Linked DNA regions of Homo sapiens. The protein of the gene in region 1 purifies or fractionates together with the protein of each later gene. This does not show direct contact. Each region holds a gene or a part of one and is shown on either strand. Other genes may lie near its edges.

Evidence for each region.
Region 2: the proteins of RASSF8 (region 1) and PARD3 purify together in Homo sapiens (affinity purification with mass spectrometry; 6 studies listed by BioGRID and IntAct, with this or other methods). This does not show direct contact.
Region 3: the proteins of RASSF8 (region 1) and PPP1CC purify together in Homo sapiens (affinity purification with mass spectrometry; 5 studies listed by BioGRID and IntAct, with this or other methods). This does not show direct contact.

Annotation. Positions count from the first base shown.
Region 1 is NC_000012.12:26,059,674-26,066,698, reverse strand, and holds part of RASSF8 (ras association domain-containing protein 8), read right to left. Parts: intron 2,202-7,025; coding exon 1,312-2,201; intron 1-1,311.
Region 2 is NC_000010.11:34,357,278-34,364,302, reverse strand, and holds part of PARD3 (partitioning defective 3 homolog), read left to right. Parts: intron 1-4,043; coding exon 4,044-4,232; intron 4,233-4,985; coding exon 4,986-5,156; intron 5,157-7,025. UniProt on the Homo sapiens protein: Adapter protein involved in asymmetrical cell division and cell polarization processes. Seems to play a central role in the formation of epithelial tight junctions. Targets the phosphatase PTEN to cell junctions.
Region 3 is NC_000012.12:110,739,873-110,747,670, reverse strand, and holds the start of PPP1CC (serine/threonine-protein phosphatase PP1-gamma catalytic subunit), read left to right. Parts: upstream 1-4,779; 5' UTR 4,780-4,963; coding exon 4,964-5,018; intron 5,019-7,798. UniProt on the Homo sapiens protein: Protein phosphatase that associates with over 200 regulatory proteins to form highly specific holoenzymes which dephosphorylate hundreds of biological targets.

The DNA.
Region 1 (7,025 bases):
ATATCAATATTTGATTATCAGACACTTTTCAGTGGGTAGAGGGATTTGCTAGTAATGACTGTGATAAGTTAGTGTTTTCTGTGATATCAAAAGCAACACAACTTCCACTTGTACCTTTTTTTAAATGTCAAAATGAATCCCAATAGTAAAATACTGACAAATTAGAGGCTGACAAGCTTCTACTGCATGAGAAATTCTTGATTTTCAAAATTTGGGTGGTAGTTTTATCTCTTACTACAGATAATGACGGAGAAAGGAGATCACATCAGTTCTTCCTAAAACCTCAGCTTTCTCTGATTGTGGAACTAACTGTTGATGTTCTAAAGCAGCTCTTCTCAAACCTCACTGTACACAGGTATTACTTGGGCATCCTGTTTCAATGTAGATTCTGAATTTCTTACAAGTAGTACCCTGGAGCTGCCTGGCATGGACTACACTTTGAATCGTAAGCTCTAAACCAGCACAGTCCAACAGAACCTCCTTCAATGGTGGAAATGTTCTGTGTCTGCACGGCCCGTACAGCAGCTACTGGGCACTTGAAATGTGACCATGTGTGACTAAAAACAGAATTTTAAATTATTTAATAATTTAACTGCCTTATTATTTAATCTTAATTTAAATTTAAGTAGCCATATTGTAATCAATTGTGTCTCTTTCTCGTCCCATCTGATACAGACTGTTTGATACATCTTTGCAACTTCCGCAACATAATCACAGGGTCTTTTCAAGAATGGGTATCCAAGAAATGTAAGTTGAGTGATTAGGGTTTAAGTGGCAAAATAGAACTTCTCGTATGTGAACTAGAAAGGGGGAAAATCAGACAGAAATCTTTGTGCCTCTCTCAGGAAAGCAAAGGAGGGTACTGTGGAGAGGGGAGAAGGGACGGGGGCTGTTTATGTGTCAGGAAAGAAGCTGGGATTGGCTGGCAACAATGGAGAAGTGACAGATAAGCAGTCAGCTAGCCACAACAATCCCTGGCCAACCAATCCATGGACAGCTCTTTCAGCTCTAGTTTCCCTATCTCTGAAAGGAGAAGGTGAGATTCACTATCTCATCATTAGTGTCCATTCCATCCCATTATCTAACGCTACAACTGTCACAGTAAGACAAGGCTCTTCCATGGAGAAGGATCCGCAAGGCTACTGCTCCCATCTAAGCTGTCGTAAGTCACAAGAGTTCGACAAAAGTTTTAAACAAGGCTGGGTTTCTAATTCTTTGAATATAAGGAAAAATTGACAATGATGAAAAGGAGATTCCAAGAAGATACTATTTTACATGGGCCAAACATTCTATTTATCAAAGTGTCCCTACCTGTAAGCGTTTGGTGGCTTGTCCAAGAGATCTTTCCACAGCTTTGATGCCATTTTCCAACCTCAGACTCTGCTGGCCTTGAATGTCAATCTCCCCTTTGACCTTACCGATCTTTCCTTTAACCTCTTCCTCATTGACCTGTGCCTCTTGAACTTCCCGTTGCAATTTTTCTGCTTCAAGACCACTTTCCATAGTCCGGATCTGTGCCAAATAGTCCTTTAATTTGTTTTCACATTCTGTTATTTTCTGTCTTATTTCTTGAAGTTGATCCTTCAGCTGTTTTTCATTTTCCTGTTCAATCTGTAATTCATTTTCCCAGAATTCTTCCTCCTCAATTTCTACATCGTTTCTTTTGATCTTTTGCTCTAGACGGACAATTTCCTCTTCAAGGTTGGAATTATACTTTTGCTCCCAAAATCTTATTTCTATTTCATTAGATTCCAGCTGTTTCTCAATGGATTGAAGCTTCTCTGTCTGCAGACGGATTAGCTTCTTCAACTCATCTGCTGTTGTTTTGCAGTTATTCAGCACCTTTTGCTTAAACTCAGTTTCTTTACCTTTTCCAAAAATGTCCATTAATCCTTTGGCACCTCCTGTAAATGTCAGTGATTTCCTTTTCGGTTCCCTCCTTTTGATTGATTTGTCAATCTGAGGCCTCAGTTTAGCTAAGGGGGGCAGACTCTGCCTGTATAAAGTTCTTTCAGGAATTCGAGCCACACTGTCTGAAGTGGGTCGCTCACTGAGAGACGGCCCAGTTCGTCGTAGAATGAGCTGCACATCACTAGCATACTGCCCCCATTTGTTTAAGGATATGATAGGATTTTCATGAGGTGCTAAGTGTCTTTCAGTATCTCTCCATTTCTCTATAAGGGTGTACCTTCCAGTTCGACCTATGTAAAAAAGGTAAGAATAACTTGTCAAAATGGGATATGTAATAGTTAAAAAATGGAGTAAGAATGCCATTTGATGATTGTGTATTTTCGATTAGCATCAGAGGGTCAAGTTTGAGTCTAGTTCAGGTTCCTTTAAAACCTTTACTTGAAGATACCAAACCCCTCACGACATGTAACAACATAAAATCAGAAGATGTGTATTGCACATACTCTTTAGGCTTGCTTAGAAATTCAACTTTATACTTTAAACCTTGGTGGGACTCTTATACTCTTGCCAAATACCTGGCTGCCTAGAACTTCTCATTTGGGGCAAGACTGAACAAAGTTTATTTTCTAGCTGAAACAAAGGACAACAGAATCGCCATGTGAAACATGAGGGGCTGGTCCAGGAACTAGGTGGAACTTCAAAACTCAAATACATTTCCACTGTGGAAATCCCTCGGCTTTTTTCCACATCAGAACTTGGGAGGGCTGGAGGCCCCACTTCTCCTCCTGAAAGGAGACATGGGGACCAGTGGAGAACTGTGACTCAGCCACAGGAGGTGCCCAGGTCTCCTCTCCATCTCCACCTGAGTGCTCCACCAACCCATCGCTCACACAGCTGACATCTTCCTGGACACCCATGACAAACAAAAAACCAGCTCAATGAAAAAAACTCTTCAAAACAAATTCATATAAAAAGAGGGGCCTGAAGAGAAGACTTGTTCAGTTTTGGTAATATGATAGTATCAGAGATTCTTCTTCTAAAAAAAAAAAAAAAACTCAAAGCAAAATATTGTTAAAAACAAACCAGCAGGCTGGGTGCAGTGGCTCACACCTGTAATCCCAGTATTTTGGGAGGCAAAGGTGGGCAGACTTCTTGAGCCCAGGAGTTTGAGACCAGCCTGGGCAACATGGCAGAACCCTGTCTCTACAAATAAAATATGAAAAAGTTAGCCGGGAATGGTGCTGTGCACCGTAGTCCTAGCTACTTGAGAGGCTGAAATAGGAGAATCGCCTGATCCTGGGAGATCAAGGCTGCAGTGAGCTGTATTGTGTCACTGCACTCCAGCCTGGGTGACAGAGTAAGACTCTGTCTCAAAAAAAAAACAAAACAAACAAACACCAGAATACAATCACATATACATTGAAAAATATACTGAATCTAATCATTATGAAAGTAAGATAAAGTTTCAGAAGAATATGATTGTAATGCCATAAGCTTGAACATGCTTTTTAAATATTTTCATTTGAGTGGGTCAGATAGATTATTTAAATTTTGTGAAAAGTGTACATAAATAATTACAAAGAAAAAAAACCAACGCTGCCATCCAGCAATTATACTTGTATAAACAGCTATTGATTGATTTACCTTCCTGGCTTTCTTTTTTAAATTTCATGAGCTTCTGAGCCAATAGTAGTATTTTTGCAATTACTGCATCAATAAATGGAAATCTAGATGTGTAAATATCAACACCCATGTATGTAATTCATGAGGAGCACATTAAAAAATGATTTTGCTATAAGCATATGAGTGTGTTCTCCTTTAGGGAAACCTGAATTTGGGGTATAGCTGGAAGTTGGGGTTTTGGAGGCAAACAATCCTACGTGAGTTACTTACTAGATAAGCAGCACAACTTCCCTTCTAAAACGCTTCGCAGATTCTGAGGGTTAGCACCTACCACACTGCCTGGCCCACAGCAGGCATTCAACACGTGGTAGCTAGTAAGACATTTTTCCTATAACAAAAGGGCTGACCACAGAATTCCTTTAAATAGTGATGTGTCATCACAATGATCTTTTATTTATTTATTTATTTTTTCCCCTCCCTTGCCCAACAATCTGACTTTTAAAAAGCAACTTCCAACTATGTAAACTAGACAGAGATGGGACAAAGGTTCTGGAGTAGAAAGGTCTGGGTTCAAATGTGGCTCTGCCTCCTACTGTGCTTACCTACATGATCTGAACAATTAAATTTCCTTTAGCCTCAGTCTCCTCATCTGTGGGATAAGAGTAGTATTGCCTTATCTGACAAGGTGGTTCTGAGACTCAAGTGAGAATGTAAAATATAAATATGTTTGTGAAATTGAAAAGTGCTAGATAATATTAGTTACATTTATCAAAATGCCCAGGCTAATAAGGGGGATGAAAAAGAAAACCTTAGCACAATAGATTAGCTTCTTGAAATAAAAAATGTTTCCAATGATTTTCAGGTTAAAAATTACTCTAATTGCTCCCAAAGAAAAACCACATGACACATCTGCAATGTTAAAACTGTCCCATGTGTACAAACTGCTTCAAAGGTCATAGCACTATGCCTATCAACTGCTTTTAGGAATCTTACTCTTCTCTGAACCTCTGTGTCCTCCTTCGGTAACAGGAGGGGTTAGATAAACCGGTAGAGTTCTTTCCAATTCTATCAGCCCAATGAAGTATCTTTAGAAGGAAAACCGAATCATCACATTATATGAACTAAACAAAATATTTTAAAGACCCTAATTTATTCATAATTAAAAATAAAACTAATTTTCCAGTGCTTACTGGTACTGCTACCCTCTGAGAATGTCTTGGAAGGTTATTTAGAATTGCTTTTACTGCCAGTATTGGCTTTTGTTAAATAATGCACATTTAGTACCACTGGGTCAAAAAATTCCATCCAGCAATATAAAAAAGCTTTTTTTAAAAAAGGCAAATGAATTAATAGATTTGATTTTATTATATAAATTGGGTTTTAAATATTTTATATAGGAATTAAATTCCACAATCGCTGTTTTTAATATCCATAACTTGGCAGCACTCTACAGATTCTATTTCCTTCATTTACACAGATTCTGATTCCTCCTGCAAAACTCCTTTTAGCGTATTTGACCACATGGATACATTCAGTTAAACCTTCTGTACTATTTTGATGTAATCTTAAAATGAATAAAAAGGAATATCTATCTGTCTGTCTGTCTATCTATGGCATTTGTAGTTTAAGCTGTTTTTGCATTGTAGGACTGTGTGACACTATCAAATAATTTCGATCCAATTTAGTGGGGTAAAAAATATTAATTATACTTTTAAATATTGAAGCAACTGAGACTAATCCCAAGAATCATTAAATTTATATACTGAAGAAACTTACATACAGATTTTAATGCATTAATGAGATCTTATTGAATGACTGATTGACATAAATTAAAAGAAAACAGGATAACAGCTTACTTTCACTTAAGAAAGCAGAATACACAACTATAAAGTAACATAACATTTTGAAAATACACACCAAAACTCAAACAAGGGTCACTCAGAAATTTATGCCCTGAATTCAACCATTTTTTAATACTCCAACAATTTTTATAATTTTAGGAAATTTCTCCTTACAGTCATAAATCAAAATCATGATTTAAAAGTTACATCTTGCTATTTAGTTAACAAATGTATATTGAACACCACATATGTGTCAGAAACAGTGCCAGGCTCTAGAGAAATAGATTCTACTAAACATCTTCATCACCAACCCTCTGGAGTCTTCATTTTAACTGACATTTGATATTTTCTTCAGTACCAAATCCTCCACACCCCAAAGATGAATATTGGACATTATTCAAAAGAACATGACAAAGAAATGGCACTAATCTCTTATGAATTTAATGCTAACATATCTTCAGGTTTCTGGACATATGAGAAATAATGTCAGTAACACCTGACTTATTCTTTATCTATGGAGGATAAGCTATCCAACAGCACTGAATTTTTCTGATAGTAGATATTTTGCTTCTTGAGCTATAAATATTTTAATGAAAATTTTGTAAAATACATTACACAGTCCAGGACTCTTATGCAAACTCTAGTGAACACAACTAGCTTTTTCCGTAATGACTTAGAATTCTTACAGTAAGCGTTGATCTCTGTAACAGAACTTACACTTTATTATCTTATAGCCTGTAAAATGCTTTTGATGCTTTTATATATATCATCTTAGTTAGTTCTGTGAGTTAAGCAGTATAGATATTACGATCCTCATCTTATCAGTGAAGAAATAAAAGCTTAAAGAATTTTAAGTAATTTTCTGATGACATTTAGTTATTTTTTTACTATACTATTTAAGTTCTGAGTGAAACTACTAAAATAACTCTTACCCCACAGTATATCTTAGAATAACAGTGATACAATAAAAAATTATCTCTGAATATACCTGTCAGCCAGTTGTGCATTCAAACCATAGTTACATCATCCACAGTGTATCTTCCCAGTGTATATCATGTAATCACAGAATTACTGTCTACTTAGAATTATATGATAAGCTCACTACTACTAAACATAATAAAAATAGTGGTCAGGCACGGTGGCTCACATCTGTAATCCCAGCACTTTGGGAGGCCGAGGCGGGCAGATCACGAGGTCAGGAGATCGAGACCATCCTGGCTAACACGGTGAAACCCCGTCTCTACTAAAAATAGCAAAAATTAGCTGGGCGTGGTGGTGGGTGCCTGTAGTCCCAGCTACTCGGGAGGCTGAGGCAGGAGAATGGTGTGAACCTGGGAGGCGGAGCTTGCAGTGAGCGGAGATCACACCACTGCACTACAGCCTGGGTGACAGAGTGAGACTCCGTCTCAAAAAAACAGTTACAGAGTACCTGTGATTTACTGGGCATTGTGCTGGTTACGTTAAAAAAATATAAACCAAAATAAGTAGAAAACACTACAAACCAGAAGATTTTGGGAGCTGTTCGTTAACACAGCATAATCTAACCCATCTTGACTGATGCATGCTATGAATTAACATGTATTAACATTCATTAAAATAATATTCTACAGATGTGGAAAATACAGAAGCTAATTAAAATAAAAAATTAGA
Region 2 (7,025 bases), on another chromosome or scaffold:
TTATGGTCTTCTATCATTTGTGCACATTCCATGTTTCTTTTGCCTCTCTTCACAATATTTTGTACATTCTCATCCAAATTTTCGTTTGTTGCGGCTCAGAGATTACCCTTCCCATGATTGTTTTTCTGCTGCTTGACACAATCAACTCTTATTTCCTTTTTTATAGATAACACCTTTGCTGCAGATTAACTGTGGATTTGGGCCTATAGGCCAGCTCTATTCTCAGTTTTTTGGACTGTGATTTCGGGAAGAAGGAAAAGGGGGCCATGATGGTGCCCACTTGTGACTCTTTGTCTCACTGCAGATAGAAATGTACATCTTTTCTGCTGTTCTCTGGAGGGTGGGATAGTAAGTAGCTTTCACAATACCCATTCAGCAGGTTCCTTAGCAAAGGTGCCCTTTTATTCTGGGCATTTAAAGACAACAAATGGTAATGGAGAAATGGGCAAAGGAAGAACTGACAGGCTTTGTTGCTGAAAACAATCACTTGAGGTATACACACATGTATGTGCGTGAGGCAGGTGTGCTTGAGTGACATGACTGTGCCCAGATGACATGAGGAGTGAGTTAAAGAAAAGACATTTTTTGCGTTTCTGTAGAAAGATCTTAATTCGAGAAACAGTTGATAAGGTGCAGAATTTGGATGGAATAGCAAGGTGATAGAAAGTTAGTTTCTATTTTACATCAGAATATGGAGATTCCTATACTATCTGACTTTATGAACATTCTCAGTAATATAGCATTTCAAATGATTTTTGAAGAGCACAATTTTTAAAAAACATTTTTCTGCCAGAGAACTAAGTTCTAAAAGCTGGCATTAATTTCTGTCTATGTCAAAAGCCAAATGGATTAATAGTGGAATATCACATGAAACATACAATGTTTCACATCAGTGTTCTTAATGATAATAATGACTTAAGACTTGGTAAGAAAGCTGAAAAAGATTATTCCCATTCTGCAGTTGTTATAATAAATAAACTATCCCCTGGAGAATATGCTCTTCTTTAAAACAGGTTCAGAGTTCAGCAATCAGAAAATATTGCAACTTGATTAAAATTTTTCTTCATATATGCAGCCAGCTCCTTATCCTGATCTTTCAAGTAGGAAAAATATGAGAATTGTAAGCCTTGGTAAAATGTTATGGAAATGTAAAACTCAGTAAACACTGAAAAGGCAACTGAAGATTCAAATCAGAAAGTAACAATTAAGAACCTTCCAGAGTTGAAGCAAGTAAGCATAGTGAGTGATGAGACTTAGGTGTGTCCATAGAAAGAATATTCTTGTTTTCCATTTTTTCAAATGTAGCTTTTCCATGCTTATAAGTACTGATTGACAGAATAATTTTTTATTTCAGCAACCTCCAAATTTAAAGTCAAGGGGAACTATGATGTGTATTGATGTTGTTTTGTATTTTAAACATCAAAATTTACCGTACTTTATATTCTTGTAACAGATTTTATATTGAGGTAGTGCAGTTCATTCACACATAGTCATTATTTCGTACTCTGTAAATGTTTCAAGGGGCTGGGCACGTAAGCCCAATACTTTGGGAAGCCAAAGTGCGTGGATTGCTTGAGCCCAGGAGTCTGAAACCAGCCTGGCCAACATGGTGAAACCCCATCTCTAAAGAAATACAAAAATTTGCCCGGTTTGTTGACATGTTCCTGTAGTCCCAGCTACTCTGGAGGCTGCAGTGGGAGGATCACCTGAGCCTGGGGAGGTCAAAGGTGTAGTGAGTAGTGATTGTACCACCGCATTCCACCTTGGGTGACAGAGTGAGACTGTCTCAAAAAAACAAACAACAAAAACACTTGTTTTGAGCTACATGGACCAAAATAAAAAGTATATTGAATATTCATGTTTATAGAGCAAAGCATGTATATAAAGATACTTTTGTATCAAAGTATTTGATATATTTGATCTTTTTTTGCCCACAATACATTGGTTTTATTTGAGCTAAAATTGTTCTCTGGGAATATTTTATTTTATTTTATTTTTTGTTATGGGACAGAGTCTTGCTCTGTCGCCCAGGCTGGAGTGCAGTGGCATGGTCTCCACTCACTGCAAGGTCCACCTCCTAGGTTCACGCCATTCTCCTGCCTCAGCCTCCCAAGTAGCTGGGACTACAGGTGCCCGCCACCACGCCTGGCTAATTTTTTGTATTTTTAGTAGAGATGGGGTTTCACCATGTTAGCTAGGATGGTCTCGATCTCCTGACCTCGTGATCCACCTGCTTCGACCTCGTGATCCACCTGCGTCGGCCTCCCAAAGTGCTGGGATTATGGGCGTGAGCCACCACGCCCAGCCTGGGAATATTTTAAATCTAGTTTTTATGATGAGCAGGCTTAAGGCTTTATTTGGACTTTGATCATAAATGTATTTACTTTGCATAGTTAACATGACTATTACTCTGTATTTTTTCAGATTCTTATTTTGAGTTCTTCATTATATAAGTTTTAATTTTTTTTTTAACCCATTAGCAAGTTTATTGTAATTGAAGTGTTACTTGTCTTTAAAAACTATCAGGCCATCCTTTGAGATAGCACAAAGATGTCCTACCATAAAATGTTAACTTTACATATTTGTAAATTAGAAACATCACATTACTATGGGTCTAAAGATTTATAAATAGCATATTGCTTATTTTATGATGATCTAAAAAATTCACTTACAGATAGTGTACTCTCAAAATGTATTTTATCTAATTGAGACATCTGAGATTGCATGTTTATGCCCCAAATTCCTTGCATTCCAAATTTCCTTGAATTCCAAATTCCTTGGGTTGATTTTTATTCTTATTAGGACATTTTAAAAATTTGGTAGGATGCAGTCACCTACTTTTTTTGTGTTATTGAACATTCTGTAAAAGCACAATCTGTTTAAAGTATATATTCCTACATATCTGTGTACCACTGTATTTCTTATTCTTCAATTATAATTTGATAAGTCAAGCTTGAATGACTAAACAGATGCTGGAGAAATATTTCAAACGTGGGAAAAGAGGAGGAGAAATAGGTTGTAGGACTAGATGTGCCATTCAGTTTTTACTTGAAGAGCCTGTGCCACGTGTCTGTTATGTGGTTGGAGCAAGAGTTTGTGCTTGAACAAGCATCCTAGCCTTACTGATTTGGACATGACCAGTATAGAGATGGTGGAAATCTTGGTCATGGGCGGGATTGCTGAGGAGGAGGAGCTCAGAAGGCTGAGTGCTTCCTCTTCTGGAGTGTAGGCTTTCTTAATGATAGGCTGTCATCTTAATGCATTTTATTCAGTTCTACATTAAGCTTTCATTTCTTCCTCTGTTTTAAGGGAGGTGAACAATAATTTGTATATCCTAAATGTTTTTTATTTTAAAAAGTCTTCCTTCTATGCTTGGTGACTATGAAGTTAAATCTTAACTAATTAAACAAGATTACCTGAATAATATTTACCAGCTATATTATGTATGCTACAATATTGTGGAAAAGTTTTCTGTGATGTTGTATATCTCTACTTTGTCTCACAGATGTTGATGTTAGAATTCTTTAGAGGCTCTCTGAACCCATATACCTTTTTCTGCTGATTTTGTATGATCAGGATTTGTTATTTTTTGTGAATAAACACCATTAGTGAACATTAAATATATTGATAACTTCAGAATTTCCTCATAAAAAGGGAGATAAATGAATTATATTTATTTATTTTTACTCCCATTGTTACTGTTTTTCTTGTCGTTTAGAATATATGATTACACCAAAAAAATCCCGAACTCTAGAAATCTACTAGTCTTTAGTCCTTCCACTACATTTTCCCTCTATCTTTCTCAAATCTGATTTAAGTTTGGTTCAATATTGAATAATTGCTACATAAAAATATTAACAGCTGGTTCCAAGAATCTTCTGGAGTGGGTGCAGATGTAGTGTTTTCATGGATCTTGCTGTGGAACCTTCATGGAAATATTTTGCCTCTTATGATTAAGGAACTGCTCATTAGCAGTCTTTAAAAATAACTTTGAGAAAGAAACATTGGACTATAATGTGCTGTGCAATTTTGTTCCCTATTAGAAAGCAGAAGATGAGGATATTGTTCTTACACCTGATGGCACCAGGGAATTTCTGACATTTGAAGTCCCACTTAATGATTCAGGATCTGCAGGCCTTGGTGTCAGTGTCAAAGGTAACCGGTCAAAAGAGAACCACGCAGATTTGGGAATCTTTGTCAAGTCCATTATTAATGGAGGAGCAGCATCTAAAGTGAGTGTCAACTTTATCATGCGTATGCCTATTAACAAAAATTTTAATTTCAACCCTGTTCCTATTTTGGAAACATATACAGTTAACAGAAGTTTTCTCATTTCTTTATGGTACCCACATTCACATTTAAACAACTAGGTGTATCAGTGATGTGTCACGTGGGGATGGAGTCCATAACTTCAACCTTTCATTTTTTCTCTCACAGAACATACAACCCATTGACATGCTAGTTAAATGAAGTTAATCAATGCAAAGACTTGGCATAGGTCCTGTCACAGAATGGGCGTATAGTAGACGTTAATCTTTCCCCTCCCCTCCCCTGTTTGTGGGTCACTTACTCTATTTCTCAGCCTAGAGAAAATTTCCTGGCCATTTGTTAAGGGGACAGTTCTCTGCAACTGTCTAATAGCCTTGAGCTTTTACATGTCTTGGTTTCTAAATAACCTCTATGGGTGTTTCTGGAAGCAAGAAAGTAATCACTTTGTGTCCTTTGAATTAGTATGCTATTTTGGTAAACAGATTATGATAATGACTTGATTTACAAATGTATAAATGATTGAAATAGACACAGGCTACAATAGCTGCTTAGACGTTATTATGCCAGCGTTCAATTGGGCATAATCCATTAGGATTAAAGCTCCCCACTTTTTTTTTTTTTGCTTTGTTTTTATTTTATTTATTAACTAAAGGAAAAGCTACTTCTTTTATAGCAGTCTGTTTAATAGCACTTATTTTTACCTGTTTTCTTCCCAGGATGGAAGGCTTCGGGTGAATGATCAACTGATAGCAGTAAATGGAGAATCCCTGTTGGGCAAGACAAACCAAGATGCCATGGAAACCCTAAGAAGGTCTATGTCTACTGAAGGCAATAAACGAGGAATGATCCAGCTTATTGTTGCAAGGAGAATAAGCAAGTGCAATGAGGTAAGAAATGCAAAAAAGTGCTAGTATCTAAAATTGTAAATAAACTACATTTCTGTCCTAATTTTGGGCAAAGGGTATTAGGTTCCAGGACCTTACATCAAAAGACCATAAATTATCTTTGCTTATTGTAGTTTTATTATTTTGTAGGTGGATTGTGGTTTGTGTTCTTAATTCTTGTGATCAACATATTCCTAAGTGGACATTAATACTCCTATTGCCAACTCAGCAGGAAACACTGGGATCTCAAAAGCCCCTTTAGCTGAATTTTTTCTTGAAATCAGGGTCACATCTTCCTTCTCAGAGCCAACAGTTTCTCTTCTAGTTGGCAGAGTTATACCTGGGAGGTGAATCATGCAGAGAAACAGTTGCTTATTCATTTATTTAAAATGGGATGCCTCTTACAAAGCCCCTAGTAGGGAACAGTCTTTCCTTCCCTGTCCTTTCTTTTTTATTTGAGACAGGATCTCACTGTGTTGACCATGCTGGAGTTCAGTGTTGTGGTCACAGCTCGCTGCAGCCTCCATCTTCTGGGCTCAAGGGATTCTCCTGCCTCAGTCTGCCAAAGTCCTGGGATTACAGGCACGCGCCATAGCACCTGGCCCACAGTCTGGCTTTCTTAGATGATGGTGTTCTCTTGTGAGATTATCAATAGCATATACCTCCCTCTCTTTCCTCAGTCCCCATTTTCTCTTTCTCTATGGGATTGAGTCTGTTCTCTTAGAATGCCTCCTTTTTCAGTGATCTGTATTGTATTATACTCTGCTTGTTCTAAATGTATGTTGCAGTTTGGAATTAGGGGTGAGGAGGACACAGGGCATCCTCTCTTGAAAGGTAGGATCATCTATTTTCCCAAATATGGAAAAACATACTTTGTTGTATAATAGGACATTTGAAAGTTAAAAATAAATTATATGTTGCCTTGATAATATTGGAGCTTGAAAAAAGCTAAATTTCATGGATCCATTATAAATTATGTGCCAACTGTAGAAAATAGGTCAGACTTGCCCATGTGCAAAATGAGCTGTTGAAAATGTGAAGTTTTTCTTAAATCAATGTTCAGATTCCCACATTTTAAGATCAAATCAACTAAGATAAAATGATTAGCAAATAATACAAACTGAAAATTATACCTAAGTTGTTTAAGAGTTTTTCTTAATTTTTAAACTTCTGTTTAATAAACACATAAAGCACCGTTTTCAGGTTGCAGTGACCACTCATCTGAACCTATGATACAAGCATATTTTACAGAGAAAATATACTCTCGAGCTCAGTTGGTAGTCAATATAGAGGTGACGTATTCTGAAAGATCACTGACCACTGAATTATTTTGTTGTTTTTATTTGCCAAATGTAGAATGAGTTAACAGTAATCAACAAATTAATTGCGATATCAAGAGAACAACATAACCTTAACTAAAAAATCTCAGAGTGGAGAAGAGTGGGACATACAAACATTCATTTATGTAAGATAAATATAAAAGCTAATCCCTCACAGTAGGATGCTGGACTGATATTTTTTTCTCTTTTCCGTCCCTCCTGGACTGATTGAATAGTAGTTTTTACTCATTGCAAAATCATTAGCTGATCTTTTAACTTAAGTCCCACAAAGCACTATATGAAAACATCTCAACTGTAAGTTTACAAAACATATCATTCTCTTTTAGGCCTTTTTATTTTGGCCACCTGAATACTTTCCCATTACACAGGACAGTTTTCATTCCACAGATATTTATTGAGCATCTTATGTGTATCAGAAAATGTGTTAGATCCTGAGGACATAGCAGTGAATAAGACAGATGGCATGCATTCTACTGGACAACGTATCACCTTAGTCTTTTAGAGACCAATTAAAATTTTTAACACCTTCTCA
Region 3 (7,798 bases), about 85 Mb from region 1:
CAGTTACCTGGAAGGCTGAGGCGAGAGAATCACTTGGGCCTAGGAGGTCAAGGCTGCAGTGAGCCATGATATCACCACTGTAGTTTAGCCTGAGCAACAGGGCAAGACCCTGTCTCTAAAAAAAAAAGTGAAATAAGATCATGTTACTCCTCTACCTAAAACCCTGCAGTGACTTCCCATTAAGCTTAGAATAAAATCCGAACGTCTTCTTGTGGTTTAAAAGACCCTGAGTGGGCCGAGGCGGGCAGATCACCTGAGGTCAGGAGTTTGAGATTAGCCTGGCCAACATGGTGAAACCCTGTCTCTACTAAAAATACAAAAATTAGCCGGGGCATGGTGGCAGGCACCTGTAATCCCAGCTACTTGGGAGGCTGAGGCAGGAGAACCGCTTGAACCCGGGAGGTAGAGGTTACATGAGCCAAGGTCGTGCCATTGCACTCCAGCCTGGGCAACAAGAGAGAAAAAAAAACAAAAACCCTGAGTGATCTGGCCTCTGGCCACTTCTCCAATCCCCACCTTCTTCTTCTTTTTTTTTTTTTTTTTTGAGATAGAGTCTCTCTGTCACCCAGGCTGGAATGCAATGGCGCGATCTCGGCTCACTGTAGTCTCCACCTCCCGGGTTCAAACGATTCTCCTGCCTCAGCCTCCCAAGTAGCTTAGGATTACAGTCACCCGACACTACTCCCGGCTAAATTTCATATTTTTAACAGAGACGGTGTTTGACCATGTTGGCCAGGCTGGTCTCAAACTCCTGACCTCAAGTGATCTGCCTGCCTCGGCCTTCCAAAGTGCTAGGATTACAGGCGTGAGCCACCGCGCCCAGCCTTCCAACCCCCACTTCTGACACTCTTCTCCTACCTTTCACACTGTGCTCTAGCCACTCTGGCCTTTTTCCCATTCCTCCAACACTGGAAGATTGTTCCTGCCTCAGGGCCTTTGCACTTGGTGGTCCTTCTGTTGGGAATATTCTTCCCCTATGCCAATCCTTCCCATGACTTTCTCTTTTTCATCCTTCACATCTTGACTCAAATGTCAAATCCTCAGAGTCCTCCTATGTGGTCACATGACCCTTTCTAATTTTCTCACGAAATCGCCACTCTCTGAAATTATCCTCCTCAAATGGTTTATCTGTTCCCCTCTGTGTCTTTCTCTAGACTGGGAGCTCCATGAGGACAGGGACTAAGTCTGGCTTATTCACTGCTATGTCCCCAGCTTCTCACACAGTGCCTGACACCCAGTACGGCCTCGACAAACGTTGCCCAAAAGAATACAAGTGTCTGCCGGTAACACTACAGGATGCAGAGATAGAACTGTGGACGTTGTCAAAGAGCATTCACCCGTATTTTTTCCCCATGGTTCCCTCCTTTGTATAAAACCCCTGGAATATCCAGGGAGGTCTAGATTTGCAGGCAAACTTCATCACCAACACTCAACACTTCTTTCTTTTCTTTTTTTTTTTTTTTTGAGACGGAGTCTCATTCTGTCGCCCAGGCTGGAGTGCAGTGGCACGGTCTCAGCTCACTGCAACCTCCGCCTCCTGGGCTTAAGCGATTCTCATGCCTCAGCTTCTGGAGTAGCTGGGATTACAGGCACCCACCAGCACGCCCAGCTACTTTTTGTATTTTTAGTACAGATGGTGTTTCACTATATTGTCCAGGCTGGTCTCGAACTCCTGGCCTCAAATGATCCACCCACCTCGGCCTCCGAAAGTGCGTGAGCCACTGCGCCCAGCCACCAACACTTCTTCCAATCATCTCACCACAATCCTAATGCTCATTAAATTGGAAGGACGGAGAGAATAAAGTTCATCCCCAGCCTTCTAGAACAGAGTTCCAAATTGCTGGCCTAGGGCCAAATGTAACCCACAGATATGCTTTGTCTGCCTCACACTGTTTTAGAAGATTTTGAGTTCATGACCGACTTTTTAAAATTGGAACATTTAACATAAAAATCCATATGTTCAAGTTTTACCAAAAACTCAGAGGATCTGGCCACAAGTGGCCCCAGGGGACTGGAGCTGAGAAGTGGCCGCCCCCTTGGATGAAACGTGGGCTCAGTTTGCTCCAGTCCCTACCCAGAGGCTGAATTCTTTCGTATTATCAGCCAGGTCCCTTTAGGCACTGGGATCCCCCCTCAAAGCCTAAGTATCCTCAGAGACACTATTGAGTTTCCAATATTTGGCCACAGCCACTCTCTTCTAATCATCAGCTCCCCATCATCTTCAGCAGCCCCTAAGAAAGCTCTGTAGAGCCAGGAAAGACAGTTTGAAAAGTGCACTTTAATCCACTCTCCTCATTTGACAGATAGGCAAACTGAGGCCTAGAGAGGGGAAGGGACATTCCATTTATTAGGCTGTATCCTTTCTGACAGGATGCTTATATCAACTCATCTTTGGAAAGCCACTGGTGCTGATAATGGCAGAAAAAGGCGAATAGGGAATCAGTGCTTTCCTCCACCGGCTATTTGCTGGTTCCTGGGAGCTGTGAGGGCCCACCCTGGTGAGCTATGCCATGCTCAGGCTCAGAGCCAGCTAATCACTTAGGCATGTGCCAGCAGAACTGAACTCTGGAGGGGAGTTGCCCAGCAGAAAACAACCTGGGGACAGAGGCTCTCCCCATGTCCCAGCTCAGTCTGAAGTCCTCCTCCAGCCCTGATGATGTTGCAAGAGGTTAACACACCTGCCATTTTGCATGAGGAAAATTATGGCACTCGTATTGTGGGCAGAGACACAATTCAGTCATTCCACTGGGTTCCAAATTGATATGTGCCCAGTATGTGCCAGGGATGTGAACACTGCTGGGGGTTCACTGCCGGGTTTTACTGAATATGAACGAGGGCTGTGGTTTCAGGCTGTCCTGAGTTCCAGCCCTGACTCTGTAACTTCCTGGCTGTGTGACCTTCAGCAACCACCCTAGCCTCTCTGTGCCTCACTTTCTTCATCTGTAAATGGGGATGATAGGAATAGGACATAATTCCTAGGATTATCTTGGGGATTCAATGAGATCATTTTTTGGCACATACTAAGAAATGAACACAGTAGCATTTTTTTTCTTGTTTATTTTTCTCCACTGCACTTATCAGAAGCTGATATTTTTATTTGCATCTTTGCTTACCATCTGACTGACTAAATGACTCTCCATAGAAAAAAGCCTTGTCTGTCTTGATCACCCCTGCTTCCCTGTCTAGAACAATGCCTGGCACAGAGTGGGTACTCCATAAATATTTGTCTGCTGAATGAATTGCTGTCTTTCATATTTCTACCCTAAATGCCATTCCGATGATGCACCCTGCCCTGGAGTAGCCCAAAGTCCTGTGGACTCCAGCAAGAGCCCCCCCTGACCTCCATAGCCAGATGTTCACAGCAGCGCTGGGCACCAACTCCGAATGTCACCAACTGGGCTCATTGCCTTGGCCTGACAAATGGCACTTATGTGACTTCTGGTGGACAGAGCTGTAGCAGGGGAAAGTGAGTTAGTGCCTGAGGAAAGTGGATCGATAGGCTGAGTTCTGAAACTCAAGGGCCCTGCACCAGTAGCGAGGGGGCCCAAGTAAGGGGACATGGAGCCCGCACCCTGAGGACATTGCTTTGGAAGAGGATGCCTGGGTGGTGCAATTACCTCGTGGCATACTGAGATGGGGATTCGTGCATCCTGCACGCCTTGGGAAACAAAATGAATTTCTCGGAGAGAGGGGGCTTTGCAAAATGTAAAGCGCTGCAGGAAGCAACGTACATGGAAAGGTCAGGAAAGAGAGCCGATCTGTTTGCTGAGTGTGGGCTGTACTTCCAAACCCAGCCAAAGTCGACGCGCAGCCCCTGGAGGTGGCACAGTTTGGGGGCCCCTTGGATAGGAGTGCCCTCGGGGAGGCTGGGAAGCCAGAGAGGAATGGGCCAAAGTTTCTTCGGGTGTCTGCAGAACCCAGGACCGCCCGCGCAGCTTGCATCTTCTCTTCCCGCCCCCGGCCTGCACGCGTGAAATCTGCAAATTCCCCTTTTAACTGCTGCACGCGCTCGTTCAACTTTGCCCTGGCTAGAATCGGGATAACCGTCCCGATGATTACATAACTTTCCGAGTTCAGGGAAGATAAATCCAAGGGACAGAAATGATAAAATTTTCTTTGAGTATGGATTTTTTACCCCTAAAGTTACAGAAGTGCACAAAAAATATATATACAAATACCCATATACCCACCACTCACAATGAGTTAACTGTTACATTTTGACTTATCTGAAAGAGGGTTTTTTCTTTTTAGTTACCAAATAAACCTTTCTCTTGTCCCAAGTTCCAGTATATCTGAATCCAAAATAAGTCAACCTTCTTTTCTTTATTATTCTTTTCCATCCTCACCCCAGATTTATCTTAAAGGGTAAGTTCCAGGACCCCCGAAATCCCTCGGTGAGCTCCCACCTGTCCAGGTCTGCAAACATCTAGACTCAATGCACAAGATCCGGCGATGGCCGCAACCGGCGGTGTGCACAGCTGCATTTCCTCCCCCAGCCCCAACTCCCGCGTGCAACTTTGCAACTCTCGCTCGGGCCCGGCATTGGGGGCGGGCCTATTTACTCGGCCCGTTTGGCGGAAGGATCCCATGCGGGGACGCGGTTGCGCTCAGCCATCTGCGCCCCGCCCAGCGCCCGGGCCCCGCCCCCTCCAGCGCCCGGGCCCCGCCCCCTCCCGCGCCCCCTATGGCCCATAAAGAAGTCCCGGCCGGGCCGCTGCACTCCCCGCGCGCATCCGTGCGCCGCCCGAGGCTGTCTAAGGAGTCGGCGGCCATTTTGTTCTTCTCGTGGTTCCAGTGGGGAGAGAAGGAGGAAGTAGGGAGCGGGGTGGCAGGGGGGGGACCCGCCGCGGCTGCTGCCACCGCCGCCACCACCGCCTCTGCTCGTGGCGTGGGAAAGGAGGTGTGAGTCCCGGGCGCGAGCCGGCGGCGGCGCCGCTGCGGGAGGGTCGGCGGTGGGAAGGCGATGGCGGATTTAGATAAACTCAACATCGACAGCATTATCCAACGGCTGCTGGAAGGTAAGGGGGGCGGCGGGCGGCTGAAGGGGGAGGCGGGCCTGAGGGCGGCAGGCGGCCCCGGGGGCTCGAGGGAGGGGAGTTGGGAGGCCGGTTGGGCTTGCAGCACCGTGGGGAGTGAGCTCCTCGAGTTGGCCCACGGGCCGGGGACTGCAGCCGGAGGGAGGCCAGCCCGGGATTCCCAACTTGTCGCCAGCTGCGGACCCTCCAGGCTCCGCTCATTCATTGCACGAGGATGCAGGCTTCCTCCCGGCCGTGGAATTTGAAAACTCCGCTCCCCACCCCCACGTTTCCCGCCCCTACCCGTTTGCCCCCGCGCACTGGACGGGTCTTTGGAGCGATGGTTGGGGATCCCAGTCCAGCCTCCTGGACGACGTGTGCCGTGCTGTGCGAGATGGACTTTTCGGTGCTCGTCCTCTCGGAAGGCAGTTTGATGAGGGCATGAGTTCCGCCGGGTTTGGGGGCTCTTTTCCTGCTTGCTTTTATTTTTATTTTTCGTGGTTCTGGGGTCTTGGGGGGCCCATTTCTTGTTACTTGGTAACAAGCGTTCATGTCTCAAGAGGTGTGAGAACCTGTCTTCGCCTGCCCTCCAAATCCTTTTAAGTTGTTCTAATCTTGGAGAGGTCTCCGCGCTCTTTTCCTGAGCGTGCATCTGAAGAGGAAGCCAACGAGGCTGACGCTATCATTATCTTTCCAATGTGCCAGGCTCTGTCTTAAGCACTTTGCGTCCATGAATTATTACTGTAATCATAACTGACGCTTCTAAAGCGCTTACTGTGTGTCAGGCATTCTTTGAGCACTTAAGACAGATTTCATTTAATTCTCCCACCCATTGCAAGATATTTGCAATTTTTTTTGTTTTTGTTATTTTACAGAAGAAACTGAGATGAAGTCACTTAACCAAGGTCACACAGTTAGTGACAGTTGGATTTCAAATCCACATAGCCGGGAGCTAGAACCCTCTACAGACAACACTGTCACCTTATGTAGGAAGGAAGGTGGCCAGTGGTTAAGTAAAGGTTAATAGAAAGCTTTAAATTTCGGCTCATCTAAGACTTGTGAGGTGCCTGGCAATTGATTCATGTTGATGTGGGAGAGGGGCGAGGTTCAGCTTTTAAAGACGGAAGCTGAAATGAGCTGCTTTCAGATTCAAGGGCATGTCAACGGATGCTAACATCTTATCCAAGACTTTGTAAGAATTCAGTCATATCCCCTAACTTGGACACTTCATAATGGGAACTTGGCAGTTTCAACTGCTTTTTGCCTTTATACAGTCCTAAAATATTGTTGGACTATAAATGCTGTGAGTGGTGGAGTCGAGGGCATGAACAGTTGGACAGCTCTGGTGTTAGAATTTACAGATCTTTTAAAGTAAGTTATTAAAATGAAGCTCCTGAAAATATCTCGTCCTTTTCTTAATCTGTGCATTCTTTCCTTTTATGCTGTCTTTAAAAAAAAAACAACAAAAAAAACACTAAATGTCATTAAGGACCCCTGAAATGCTCTTGAAATGTTATTGCAGGTGAAAACCTTGTATTGTAGGTGAAAACCTTGTCATTCTTTTAATGCCAGGTATTTATATAAGAACCATACTTTTTCATACTAGTTAATATAGTTCTTTAATTTATTCGAGGCAGCAGTTGGTCAGAAACTGATTAAAATAGTTTGCTGTAAGAAAGGAACTTTTTGTTAAATATTTTCTTTCTAAATTTTAAAATTCTGCTTATCTCTGCAGGGATATGTGTGGCTTTATTTCTCTGAGGAAACAGGAAAAGTTGGAATTTGCATGGATTAGAAACATTAGAATTTTAAGATCATCTAAGGCTTGCTAATTTAAGTTCTGGTTTGCCCATAACTGCCTCTATTCATAAACAGCTTTTGTTAATTTTGATCTTTAAAATTGTAATAAGTACTTTGCCTGGTAAGTAATGATACATCTAAAATGAGATCATTGTTTCTTAATAGTTCCTCTTGTTATGTGGCACTTGAAAACCAGGTTTTCTTATATTTCATTTTTTGCTGAAATTAATAAAGCAGTGCATTTTAATGCCTTGGGAATAGGCTAACTGCAAAGTATACTTAAATTTCTTTTTTTCTCGTGGGTGTTAAATTGGCAGAGAAACAGTTGAAGATGATCCATTGAGGATATGTAGATATCTAAGTTAAATGATGTTGGTAATAAATTCTGTTTTACAATTTTTTATTTAAAAAAATTAAATTTAATAATTTAAAATAGAAATGAGAGTCTCACTGTGTTGCCCAGGCTGTTCTCAAACTCCTGGTTTCAAGCAGTCCTCGCACCTCGTCCTCCCCAGGTGCTGGGGTTATAGTCATGAGCCACCGTGCCCGGCCTAAATTTTATTCTTTTCATAATGCCCCCAAAACCTTTTTTTTCCCTAAATAAGATGTAAGTATATCTGAAAGTAGAGGGAATATGACTTGTGACTTTGGCCAGATTTTTTTACGTGTTTAGAATTGATCTTTTAAGCTTGCGAGCAGTATAACCTAGTTGAGAAGTAGCTGAGTAATAGTACTAAAAAGCTAACTGAAAAGTGAAGTCTTAAGAAAAACAGCATGTTGGTTTAGATCTTAGTCACTAACCTTTGCAGTTCTTTTCTTCTCTGAACTCTGAGTATTTCTGTAAGCGAGGCATCACCTCTGCAACCCACCATGGATGCTTTTATCCAAGCTCTGCCTTGCTGATGATAAAACTTAAGGTTGTTAACTCCTTAGTATAACTGATGTTAGTTATTTAAATAACTACACAGTAAAACGGCATTTTG